2 separate regions of the Homo sapiens genome follow, and region 2 is linked to region 1. Evidence: fine-mapped expression QTL. Tissue or cell type: whole blood. Region 1 holds a variant in brackets; the other region holds the start of a gene. All regions are shown on one strand. Distances are from middle to middle.

Evidence for each region. PIP is the estimated chance that this variant, and not a neighbour inherited with it, causes the effect.
Region 2: it holds the start of UBXN4, and the variant in region 1 is fine-mapped to the expression of UBXN4 in whole blood (INTERVAL, PIP 0.96).

What each region holds. Positions count from the first base shown.
Region 1 is chr2:135,764,458-135,772,971 of GRCh38, forward strand. UBXN4 (UBX domain protein 4) reads left to right here. Exons shown (of 13, transcript NM_014607.4): 7 at 5,312-5,366; 8 at 6,114-6,278; 9 at 7,963-8,090. Among named protein-coding and RNA genes, the nearest start is that of UBXN4, 27 kb to the left of the region's middle. The variant C/A (reference allele first, on the strand shown) is at 3,829.
Region 2 is chr2:135,739,169-135,744,168 of GRCh38, forward strand. UBXN4 (UBX domain protein 4) reads left to right here and starts at 2,687. Exons shown (of 13, transcript NM_014607.4): 1 at 2,687-2,843. The coding sequence starts at 2,762. It overlaps LOC107985946 (a long non-coding RNA gene), which reads right to left and starts at 3,476. Exons shown (of 1, transcript NR_163478.1): 1 at 1,661-3,476. RefSeq lists enhancers at 2,305-2,434, 2,765-2,824, 3,153-3,928 and a silencer at 3,225-3,274.

The sequences.
Region 1 (8,514 bases):
TTGTGAGATCTAAGTTTTTATTTTTAATATTAATGGATATACAATGGTTATTTATTTATTTATGAGGCAGAGTCTTGCCCTGTTGCCCAGGCTGGAGTGCAGTGGCATGATCTTGGCTCACTGTAGCCTCTGACTCCCGGGTTCCAGCGATTCTCCTGCCTCAGCCTCCCAAGTAGCTGGGATTACAGGCATGCACCACCACACCCGGCTAATTTTTAAAATATTTTTAGTAGCAACAGGGTTTCGCCATGTTGGCTGGGCTGGTCTTGAACTTCTGACTTCAGGTCATCTGCTCACCTTGGCCTCCCAAAGTGCTGGGATTACAGGTGTGAGCCACAGCACCTCGCCTGTGATGGTTTTTTGTTTGTTTGTTTTTGAGATGAAGTCTGGCTCTGTTGCCAGGCTGGAGTGCAGTGACATGATCTCGGCTCACTGCAACCTCCTCCACCCAGTTCAAGTGGTCCTCGTACCTCAGCTTCCTGAGTATCTGGGATTACAGGTATGCGCCACCATGACTGGCTAATTTTTGTATTTTTAGTAGAGACAGGGGTTTGCCATGTTGGCCAGGCTGGTCTCGAACTCCTGGCCTCAAATAATCCACCCGCCTTGGCTTCTTCAAGTGCTGAGATTACAGGCTTGAGCCACCACGTCTGGCCAGGATATACAATGTTTCACTAAAGTAACAGATGTGAAATAGGAATCTTTTAGCGAATCTTTAGTTAAAATGCATTATTTTGTTTATTTCATTATGTTTTTTTTTTTTTTCCCTGAGATGGAGTTTTGCTCTTGTCGCCCAAGCTGGGGTGCAATGGCACAATCTCGGCTCACTGCAACCTCCACCTCCCAGATTCAAGCGATTCTCCTGCCTCAGCCTCCCGAGTAGCTGGGATTACAGGTGCCCACCACCACACCCGGCTAATTTTTATATTTTTAGTAGAGGCAGGGGTTTCACCATGTTGGTCAAGCTGGTCTCGAACTCCTGACCTCAGGTGATCTGCCCGCCTCGGCCTCCCAAAGTGCTGGAATTACGGGCATGAGCCACCACACCCAGCCATGTCATTATGTTTAAAATGGGCAGAATTATCTGGCAAAGATAATATATACTACCATGAATTCTAGTCTTTTTATTTGAATAAGTTTCAAACCTCAACGTTGAAAAAATAGTGTAATGGCCATCTTTTAATTTTTTTCTTTTTTTTTTTCTTCTGATTCATTTGAAAGTTGCAGACATAATTTCACTTCATGCCTAGATACCTCAGCATGCAGCTCCTAGGAAGACATTGGCTGAGGGTCTGTGGGCTTTGAGCAGGGACTCCATCCTAGGCCAGGATCTGGGGATCTGTGCTCACAGACCCATGTCCTGCCCCCTTCTGGCACCCAAGCAGGCATAGTGACCATTAAGAAGTAGATGCCAGCCCGGCACAGTGGCTCATGCCTGTAATCCCAGCACTTTGGGAGGCCGAGGTAGGTGGATCAACTGAGGTCAGGAGTTCGAGACCAGCCTGAGCAACATGGTGAAACCCTGTCTCTACTAAAAATACAAAAATTACCCGGACGTAGTGGTGGGTACCTGTAATCTCAGCTATTTGGGAGGCTGAGGCAGGAAAATTGCTTGAACCCAGGACGTAGAGATTGCAGTGAGCTGAGATTATGCCATTGCACTCCAGCGTGGGCAATAAGAGAGAAAAGCCATCTCAAAAAAAAAAAAAAGTCGAAGCCCAAATGTAGAAGTTATGGAACAGTCAATTTGTTATTAAATTAGATGCAGTGTAGCTTTTCACCCAAATTAAAACAAACTTGCGTTTGTATTTCTCAGAAGAAAATTCTACAGATGGTCTATAAATACGTTTATACACCATTTTCAGATGGTGTATATTTTCAGATACAAGCACGATACCATTATCATACTCAAGAAATTCTCAATTGATACAGTAAGATTATCTAATTTGTCCGTATTCAGATTTCCCAGTTGCTCCAATAATGGCCCTTTTAACTTTTCTTCCCTTGATTCAAGATCCAGTCAAGGATTGTTCATTGCATTTAGTTTAGGCTCTGAATCCAAGACACTTCTTGTTTGCATTTTTCATGATTTAGACATTTTGAAGAGTCTAGGTTAGTTGTTTCTACAATGTCCTTTGATCTGCTCCCTGTTCTATCATTAGATTCAGGTTAAACTCTGATAAGAACATTACCAAGATAATGTTTTGTCCTTTCCATTACTCATATCAGGAGACAAGTAATATGAGATGTATGCATTATTGGAGCTGTAAAGTTTAATTATTTGGTTAGGATGTTGTCTGTTGGGTACCCTTTTCATTTTCTAATATATAAGTTGTCTATGGGGTGATTCAAATGGTAAATATCCTACTGCTTAAAAACTTCACCCGGTGGTTTCAGCATTCATTGATTTTTGCTGTAATCACCTATTTCATTGATGTTTAAAAATTGTGGTATTTTTCTCATTCTGTTTTTTTCTACATTTATCAGCTAGCATTCTTCTGTAGAGAAATGCTTTGATCTACCCCCTCTACTTTCCATCTGCCCACCCCCGCCCCCTTTTTCCAGTAAACTACTTATTGGACACCAGCACCCAGATGAAGGAATAGAAAATTACCAGTGCTAGTCTGGCATGGTGGCTCACGCCTGTAATCCCAGCACTTTGGGAGGCCAAGGTGGGCGGGTCACCTGAGGTCAGGAGTTCAAGACCAGCCTTGCCAACACAGTGCAACCTTGTCTCTATTAAAAATACAAAAATTAGCTGGGCGTGGGGGTGTGCATCTGTAGTCCCAGCCACTGAGGAGCCTGAGGTAGAAGAATCACTTGAACCCGGGAGGCAGAGGTTGCAGTGAGCCGAGATCGTGCCACTGCACTCCAGCCTGGGCGACAAAGTGAGACCTTGTCTCGGAAAAAAAAAATGAAAGAAAGAAAATTAACAGTGCCTAATAAGCTTTCCTAATGCCCCTTCCCAATTATGGATTCCCTCCATAAGATGATCACTATCCTGAATCGAACACTGTAGGTTAGTTGTCTGTTTGTGAACTTTGTGATGGAATCATGCAACGTGTATTTTTGTGTTTGATCTCCTTTGTTCAGCTTTGTATTTTGAGGCTTATCCGTGTTGCATGTCACAGTAATTGGTGCACTCTCATTGCTTTATAGTATTCTGTTTGACTCTACCTTGATTTATTAATCCATTCTACTGTTGGTGGACATTAGGATTGTTTTCAGTTTGGGGCTATTTGAATAGAACTGCTATGAGGAATATTCTTGTATATGTCTTGGTGAACATGTGTACACATTTCTTTTGGGCATATATATGAAGAAGCGGGAATTTCTGGGTTATACATAGTGATCAAACAGCTTTCCAAAGTGGTTAGGCCAATTTACAGTTCCCCTTAGCAGTTAAGACATGTCACAGATGCTTTTTTTTCTCTCATGTGTTACTATCCATTTCTCTATTCTTTTTGGTGCACAAATTGCCCCAAATTTGACTTGTTGGAATCCCCTTCATATTGGGTCTTCTGGCTTTTTGACAGTACTCACTCCCTTGATTGCTGGCACACATTGTTCAGTTTGGTATACACCAAACACTTTTAGAGAAAATACCATTTTCATTTAAAAAAATGAAATATAATTCACTACCATGAAATTGAAAGTGTACAATTCAGTGAGTTTTAGTATATTCACAAGGTTGTGCATCCACTACCACTGTCTAATTTCAGAATCATTATTTTATTTTTTAAATTTTTTTATTTTTTTGAGATGGAGTCTCACTTTGTTTCCCAGGCTGGAGTGCAGTTTCACCATCTCGGCTCACTGCAACCTCCG[C/A]CCCCCAGGTTCAAGCGATTCTCCTGGCTCAGCCTCCTGAGTAGCTGGGATTACAGGCGCATGCCACCACACCTGGCTAATTTTTGTATTTTTAGTGGAAACAGGGTTTCACCATGTTGGTCAGGCTGGTCTCAAACTCCTGACCTCGTGATCTGCCCACCTCGGCCTCCCAAAGTGGTGGGATTACAGGCATGAGCCACCGTGCCTGGCCGATTTTATTAGTTTTTGAGATGGGGTTTCATTACGTTGCATTACACTACCATGCTCAGCTGATTTTATATTATTATTTTTTTTTCCTGAGGCGGAGTCTCACTCTCGCCCAGGCTGGAGTACGGTGACATGATCTCGGCTCACTGCAACTTCCGCCTCCCAGGTTCAAGCGATTCTCCTGTCTCAGCCTCCCGAGTAGCTGGGTTTACAGGCGCTCACCACCACGCCCAGATGTTTTTCTATTTTTAGTAGAGACAGCGTTTCGCCGTGTTGGCCAGGCTAGTCTCAAACTCCTGACCTCAATTGATCCGCCTGCCTCGGCCTCCCAAAGTGCTGGGATTGATTACAGGTTTGAGCCACCGTGCCCAGCCTGATTTTTTATTTTTTGTAAAGATGGGGTCTCAAGTTGTTACCCAGACTGGTTTCGAACTCCAGGGCTTAGGCTATCCTCCTGCCTCAGCCTCCTGCAGTGCTGAGATTACACATGTGAGCCACCACACCCAGCCTCCATTTGTTTGTTTATTTCAGACAGGGTCTCCCTTTGTCACCCAGGCTGGAATGCAGTAACGCGAACGTGACTCGCTGCAGCCTCGACCTCCCGGCTCAAGCAATTCTGTTACCTTAGCCCCTAAAGTAGCTGGAACTACAGGCACACGCCACCATGCCTGGCTAATTTTTGTGTTTTCTGTAGAGACAGAGTTTTGCCATGTTGCTCAAGCTGGTCTTTAGCTCAAGAGATCCACCAACCTCAGCCCTCCCAAAGTGCTGGGATTACAGGCATGAGCCACTGTGCCCAGCCTCCATTCATTTTTAACTGATGAACTTCTTACAGTTGAGAATCAAGTTGGTGTTAGTAATTTGGTATTAATAATTTGCTGGCCTTAAGTTTTTATTTTTACAGGTTTTTTTTTTTTTTACCATAGTGCTGTTTAGTTTTATATAAGGAGTAGAGCATTTATAAGTCACTGATTTATGTATTTGTTTGAAAATGTATTTGTAGATTTTAAAGTCAATATCAGGTAAATCAGAAAAAAAGGGAAACTAATCATAAGTGGGAAGTGAGGCATTTAGAATGAAGCTAGGCTTCTGATGGGCTCTCGTTGACTCCAGGATTTCTGTAGGGGCCTGAAGCCAGGCAGATAAATAGTTGCTTGCTTTTTGTTTGTTTGTTTCTTTATTTCTCCAATTGTTTTAGCTAAATCCATCTCCTAAATGTGTTTTATATTAATATGATGTGTCTCAATTAGTGGTGGTTTTTTTTTTTTTAATACAGACTAACAAAAAAACTTGAAGAAAGGAGAGAAGAGAAAAGAAAAGAGGAAGAACAGGTAAAGTTCATGCAGTTAGCATTGTTTTGTCCTCTCATTAACTGAGGTTGTGATTGATTATTCTATTCAGTGTGGCAGGCCTAGGGTGACTTCATAGTTTTAGTTCAGTGTTGCAGCACTATGAAGATAATTCCTGTTTTCTCTAGTAGAGTCATAGTATATACATTTTTTGTGTTCTTTTCGTAAATTACTATGAATAAATTAGACCATGCTTTTTCCCTCTGCAATGATTTTTTTTTACACTAAGAATAAAGGGACTTGAGCTAAAATGTTTGGCTTGAGGTTGAACAAAGTTTTAGTTCATTTTTGTGAAAAAATGTATAGACATTTTGCTGAATTTTTCCTCTCCTGTTAAGCATTCTAGCACATGGTTCATTTTTCTCACCATGTATACCTAACTGTGTAGCATGTCTTTGGAGTTCTAATATAGGAAGGTTACCATTTCATTCAAGCCAAATACGTGACTGCCATGTTGTCCCTGAAGGGTAATATATTTACCCTCATGACTAAAGACCTGTAATTATGCTTGCCTTCAAATTACACTGACTACATTATTATCTTAACAGACCATTGGCAATGATTTATAGATTGATAGACATTTGACCATTAACCATGCCATTAATAAACTCGTCTAGACTTACATTTTATGAAGTTTTATTCTTTTAACTGCAGTTTTCGTTGCATTCAAAATAATATCTGGGGCAGATTATCAAGTTTTTGGATCATAAAACTTTTTCTTTAATTCAGAGAGAAATTAAGAAGGAAATTGAGAGGAGAAAAACTGGAAAAGAAATGTTGGATTATAAAAGAAAACAAGAAGAAGAATTAACAAAAAGAATGCTGGAGGAAAGAAACAGAGAGAAAGCAGAAGATAGGGCAGCTCGAGAACGTATAAAACAGCAGATTGCATTGGTAAGTCTTAAGTTTCCAGACATTCGTGAAACTGTTTTTCTGTGCACAGTAGCTTTAGATTACTACCAGACTGTGCACACAAAAATAGATTTTAGTGACTCATAGACTACCAATCCTGAGCTTCCTTTTATTAGAAATTGTAAATGAATTAAAATAGTTAAGATTAAAATTGAGTTGATTTTTTTGAAGTGATTTTTATTCATATTTTGTTAATTTATGACTTTTATCAGCATTCAAAAAGCAGCTTTTAAAGATTCCCTAGAAAATAAGCTAAGTACTAGTACCTACTACTAGTACTAAGTACCTACTAGTAGTAACTACTAGTACTAAGTACCTAGTAGTTCTTCTGTAGTCACAGGCACACTTTTTTGCAACATTGAAAGGATTTAGGCACATCATAAAGCTTAGTTTGCAACAATTGCTTTTATAATTCATCAGCTGCAATACATATTAAAACCATCCCGCCAGGTGTGGCTCACGCCTGTAATCCCAGCACTTTGGGAGGCTAAGGAGGGCGGATCACCTCAGGTCGGGAGTTCAAGACTTGCCTGGCCGACATGGTGAAACGCCATCTCTACTAAAAATACAAAAATTAATCGGGTGTGGTGGTGGGCGCCTATAATCCTGCTACTTGGGAGGCTGAGGCAGGAGAATCACTTGAACCTAGGAGGTGGAAGTTGCAGTAGGCTGACATGGTGCCATTGCACTCCAGCCTGGGCGACAAAAAGCGAAACTCCATCTCAAAAAAAAGAAAGAAAGAAAAAAAGCCATCCCTACCTTAATATTTTTGTTCATTTGGTCAGTCAACAAGTATTTGTTGAGCATTTATTATTTATTTATTTTTGAGATGGAGTTTTAGTCTTGTTGCTCAGGCTAGAGTGCAGTGGCGCAATCTTGGCTCACTGCAACTTCCACCTCCCGAGTTCAAGCAATTCTCCTGTCCCAGGCTGCCAAGTAGCTGAGGTTACAGGTGCATGCCAACATGCCCAGCTAATTTTTGTATTTTTAGTAGAGACGGGATTTCATCACATTGGTCAGGCTGGTCTGGAACTCCTGACCTCAGGTGATCCACCCACCTCGGCCTCCCAAAGTGCTGGGACTACAGGCGTGAGCCACCACACCCAGGCTTGTTGAGCATTTATTATGTACCAGACCTTGTTCCAGGCTTTGGAGATACAGTAGTGAGCAAATTCATTTCCTTGTTTCCTTAATAATAATTCTGGTCTCCGACAGTTGATAAAACTAAAAAATAACAGTTCCAGAATGTTAAAGTTCACATATGGTGTTAGACAATTTCAGGCAGCAAAGGCACAGTGGCTCACAACTGTAATCCCAGAATTTTGGGAGGCTGAGGTGGGAGGATTGCTTGAAGCCAGGAGTATAAGATCAGCCTGGGCAACAAAGTGAGACCCCACCTCTACAAGAAAAGAAAAAAAATTAGCTGGGCATGGTGGCACACACCTGTAGTCCCAGCTACTCTGGAAGCTGAGGTGGGAGGATTGCTTGAGCCCAGGTGTTCAGAGGCTGCAGTGAGCTATGATTGTGCCACTGCACTCCAGCCTTGATGACACAGCAAGACCCTGTCTCTTAATAAAAAAAAAAAATTCCATGCATATTTGTTTGGAATTGTGTGAATTAACCATTCTGGCAGTAAAGGTAATTGGTATTTAATGATGTTTTAAAGGACCGTGCAGAGAGAGCTGCTCGTTTTGCAAAGACAAAGGAAGAAGTAGAGGCTGCCAAAGCTGCTGCCTTGCTAGCAAAACAGGCAGAAATGGAAGTCAAGAGGGAATCTTATGCAAGAGAAAGAAGGTACTATATTTCATGCTGAAACATCTCTGTGCACATAGGGGCTGAGGAGAATGATTATAAGCTGGTTTTTAACACTGATGTATACTGTGGTTATAAGCAGTCCATTCCAGAGGGACATATTAATTTGACAGCTCCCAATGGTATCTCTCATTTCGTGTGAGTGTACACTAAAAAAGTACTACATAAATAACTTTAAAAGAGGGCCCAATAGCCGGGCGCGGTGGCTCACGCCTGTAATCCCAGCACTTTGGGAGGCCGAGACGGGCGGATCACGAGGTCAGGAGATCGAGACCATCCTGGCTAACATGGTGAAACCCCGTCTCTACTAAAAATACAAAAATTAGCTGGGCATGGTGGCGGGCGCCTGTAGTCCCAGCTACGCGGGAGGCTGAGGCAGGAGAATGGCGTGAACCCGGGAGGCGGA
Region 2 (5,000 bases), 27 kb before region 1:
ATGAACAACCTCCCCACCATCCTTCACTTCTTTCAGTGTTGCCTATCTCAGTACCATCTTCTTTACGATTTTGCAAGGCAGATACCCCAAATCTCTCTCTCTCTCTTTTTTTTTAGAGACAGGGTCTTGCTCTGTCGCCCAAGCTGGAGTGCAGTGGTGCAGTCATGGCTCGGTGCAGTCATGGCTCACTGCAGCCTCAAACTCCTGGGTTCAAGTGATCCTCCTGCCTTGGCCTCCCAAAGTGCTTGGATTACAGGCATGAGCTAACACACCTGGCCACAAAATCCCTTCTTGAGTCCTTCTTCCTCAACCTCCACATGTAATCAACAAAATATATTGGGTCTGTCTCCAGAATATCAAAAGCATCCACTTCACTATCTCCCTTATGTTAATACATGAATAAGTACCTCTTACCTGGTCTATTCACATTCAGCCATTCCACTTCAAATCCAATCTATTCAATTGCTATCATACAATTTAAAAATGGAAGTCTTATATGTATCTGTTTATTTATTTATTTTTTGAGATATAGTCTTGCTCTTTCGCCCAGGCTGGTGGGCAGTGGTGCCATCTTGGCTCACTACAACCTCCACCTCCTAGGTTCAAGCGATTCTCCTGCCTCAGCCTCCTGAGTAGCTGGGATTACAGGCATGTGCAATCACGCCCAGCTAATTTTTGTATTTTTAGTAGAGATGGGGTTTCACCACGTTGGTCAGGCTGGTCTTGAACTGCTGACCTCATGATCTGCCCGCCTCGGCCTCCCAAAGTGCTGGGATTACAGGCATGAGCCATTGTGCCTGGCCAACTCTTCTGTTTAAAATTTTTCAATGGCTCCCTGTAATCCTTAGAAAAATGTCTTAAAATTTTTAACATGATTTTCAAGACTCTGTATCATCTGATCCTTGCCTAGCTTTCCAGCCTCACTTGTACCACACTCCTCTTTCTATGTTATAGCCACACTGGGCATTTTTTAGTTCTGCAAGTGCACTGTGTTTGCTTGCTTCAGAGCCTCATGTGGAATAGCCTTCTCCTTCACCTACCTAGAGTTCCCCGACACGTCATTTCCTCATGAAGGCCCTTTCTGACTCCACTAGCCCATGTTCGGTCCCATCCTCATACACTTCTGTAGCACTCTGAATTACCCTTCTGTGACATTTATCATCACTCATAATTACTTATTCAATGTCTGTCTTCCTGACTAGACTGTACAGTCACAAAGACAGGGCCTTCTTCTGACTGCCTCACCTCCTTATCAGTGCCAGGCACAATGCCTAGCTCATAAAAGATGAGTGATAAACACTTGACAAATGAATATAAAACTATGAAGGATTCTTATTTAATTCTAAAATTAGAGATAATTAAAGACATAGCTCTATTGGAATAATTTCTAGATTGATCAAATTTCCAGAAGTCCATTAAAGTTGATGTTAAAGGTCAATTCTAATTTTTCTGTAGGATTGTTGTCCTATAGAAGCAACTGTCCCTAATCAGCATTATGTCTCAGTTTATAATAACACTATATACGAGAGGCCTGATTGGGAAAAAAAGTACAAAAATCGGAGTGCAAATAATTAGCTATTTTTAGGGAAAATATCTGTAGGAAAGGTGGTATATTCAGATGTATCACTTCCTTTATCTTGCAAAGATTGTCAGATAGATGTACTGCTGGAGGATAAATTTAATTGATGTAGAATTTAACATAATAGTATATGCAACTTTAAATAAACCATGCAAGCCTTTAGCTAATAGTTATTACAGACCATGTGATTTCATGAAAGTATTAAATATGGATCAGTTTTCATTTAATGGCAGCCAATCACAAAGCGCCACATCTTGATTATAGGACATTCTCCCAGAAAATTGGAAAATAAATCACTATCTAGTCTCTTTTGTATTACCATGGAAAGTAGCTGGAAAAGAAATAATCTATTCTCTGCTTTGTGTTACTTTAAAAAGTAGCTGTGGCAATAGCCTAACGCGTTTTGAAGTTTTGAAATGATCTCTATCCAGTGTCTAGGAAATTGCTGAAGGCCTGCGTTCTACCAATTCCTCCGCTTAGGCACATGGACTACAGGTTATTAAAGAAGGTGACTTGCGGTTTTTATCCCGTTTTTCTGCAAGGTTGGGCTACGTTCAGAAGAAATCAAAGCCTCGGAGTTAATCCCGACAAAGCCCATTTAGTTCCATGCGAGGACTATTTCCTCCACACTGAGAGTCTCAACGAGGCCGAGAATAGCATATGCCAGTTGGAGTGACACTTATTTCTCCCTCTCCCCTTTATAGAATGTGTAGTGGCCCTCACTACTGCCCCCTTTAGCTGTGCCTCAGAACCCACAGTTACATGCTCCACAATATGGAGGCGAATAAGCCTAAGTGGACTACAATTCCCATCATGCCTCACTGCAGGCGCCGCCGACGTGTCTTAGCGGTTAGTCATCCCTCTTACCGCTTTCCTCCACTTCCTGGACTGCGCGACCGGAGGCCTAGCGGGCGCGCGCCCGCACCATCGACTCGCCAACGAGAGAAGGTCCTGGGGCACGGACACCGACGGGTTGCGACTGTGACGTGAGGTGTTCTCGCGCGCGCTAGCGCGCGTCTCCGGGTGCCGCTGACGGGCGTGCGCGCTTGTGCGGAGCCGGAGGTGGGGGCCGAACCAGCCAAGGTTGCGGGGGCCGCAGAGCCGGACGAAGACGGAGGGCGGAGCCGGCTTCGGGACTGCGGAGACTACACACCGAGCGAGCGCCTGGGCCCGAAGGGAGCGATGCTGTGGTTCCAGGGCGCCATTCCGGCCGCCATCGCGACGGCCAAAAGGAGCGGCGCGGTCTTCGTGGTGTTCGTGGCAGGTGAAGGAGGCAGGGGTTCGAGAGGCGGCCGGGACACCCCTCCGGCCTACCTTCATCCTCTTGTATACCTCAGCCGCCGGCCCGCCCTCCCCGAGACGCGGGCTCCTGTCGGCTCGCACAATTGCCACTACTACCCCGCGCCCCAGGGACGGCTGCGACTCCGCCGCCAGATCCCCCAGAGGGGCCATGCAGACCCTCAGCGCCCTGCTCCTTCAGGCCCCGGGCGCCCCCAGCCTTTCCTCAGTGTCTGCGAGGCCCGGGCTGCCGGCCCGTGGCTGTTCAGCGCCTCCCCGGTTCGTTTGAGATACAGTGGGCCTGGCCCCACCGCTGCGTCTCCCGGCAGCCGGGCCGGAGGCACCGTCTGGCCCTGGTCTCCAAAGCGCCCCGAGGCCCGCCGAAATCTCCCCGCTCGGGGCGACGGACGCGGCCAGCAGGCCCCAGCCGCCCAGCCCCGCTCGTCGCCCCGAGCCTCTCCCCTGCGCAGCCAGACCCCCGCGACCCTCTCCCTGACGTCCCTCTCTGTCACCAAGGACCCTCTTTGTGCTGCTTGAACGCCCGTTTCGTTACTGCTGTTTAGATGGAGGTAGGAACGGGCCATTAGGCAAGCAGTTGGGTTGTAATTAGTTGTGGACTGTCGGGAAGAAAGCTGTGTCATCGATAAGCAACAAAGAGAAACCACCTGATGTTCACGGTTACTGGTGTTAGTACGTTCCTGAAACGTAAACTTTTGAGCTGAATAGAGGTTTAATTTTTCTTTATGGCAGTCTTGGTAGGGGATCTAGTGTGAAATAATGTAAGTTTAAAAAAAATCCATTAGTTTCAAAGAAAATAGACGTTCAGTCCTTGGTTTCTTCCCTTTGTTGTCTTCTTAGGCTAAAATCTACACGACTTTGAGAACGTTTATTAACTCATATATTCTCTGTTGCTCTAGGCTATTTTGCTCCATATTCTCCTGTTTTATTACTGAAATCTTGTAGATTTACAGTGAACTCCCTGCCTCTACGGTTCTGCTCATACTCATTACATGGACCAAATCAATGTTTGTGGCTGTTGTTAATTTGAGGTGTATTTCTTCAACTATTTGTGTTTAATAACGGTTTATTCATAATTAACTCGTCTTTTAATAGCTCTATAACTTTATGCACTGCAGTGAAGAACGAATTACTGAAATGTGAATGTCATTTAGCATTAAATTTGGAATTTATAATTGTTTTGTTACGCCAAGTTTTTAGCTCAATGCTGTTTATTAGAAGAGCTTGAATAGTTTAGATTCTGTGATGCTGTCTGGGGGTTATATTATACTTTACATAAATTAATTCTGTAATCCCGTAAGGAAAAAAATGGATTGAAAATGAAAGGAAAAGTAAATGACACTATGCTTATTGTGTACATTAGTAGGTTTTTGACATTTTAAATTGTTTTTCTCCTAATATCTCAGTTGATCCTTGCAGTAAATAGAACAGGTTTAATTATCCCCATTTTATAGATGAGGCACTTAGGTCAGCAGTCATAAAGTGACTTGCACTAGGGCCACAAAAAGGATTTACATGTCTTAACAGTCAAATTTTTTAGTAGCTTCAAAAAAACTGGCTTTTTTGTTTCTTAAGGAAAAAACTGAACAATTTGTAAATTGGTGATTTAAATTGGTATAGAAATCAGAAATTTGGATTATGGTAGTCATGTTTTTGAACAAATGTCCAAACATTCCTAGAAGGCACTCTTGAGGTAAATCAGTTAATTTAAAAAAAGAAACGAGAGATTTTTATTAACAAATATTAATATTTGGAAACTCTAGTACAAATTATTGGAATAGTTAAATAAAGTTATAGGTCTTGCCTTTCGGGGTTTTGTGTATATATATATACTTTCTTCAATTAAGTTTTTACTGATGAGCATGTATTACATGTATTTAGAATATAATGACTCTTGAATGTTTGCAGGAAGACTGTTAGCAATCTCACAAAGGAGTCTCTGTCTGTCCCTTGACCTGTTCCAAAATCCAGCTAGCTTTTTTAGAGCTTTAGCCAGTTAATCCCCAAGACTAAGTAGGATTAGTGTCACTCTAGGAGTATGTAGATACTGGACTCATGAAACCAAAACACTTACAGATTGCTTAGAGCTTTCTTCATAACTCTGAAGTCAGAACTTGTGATTTTC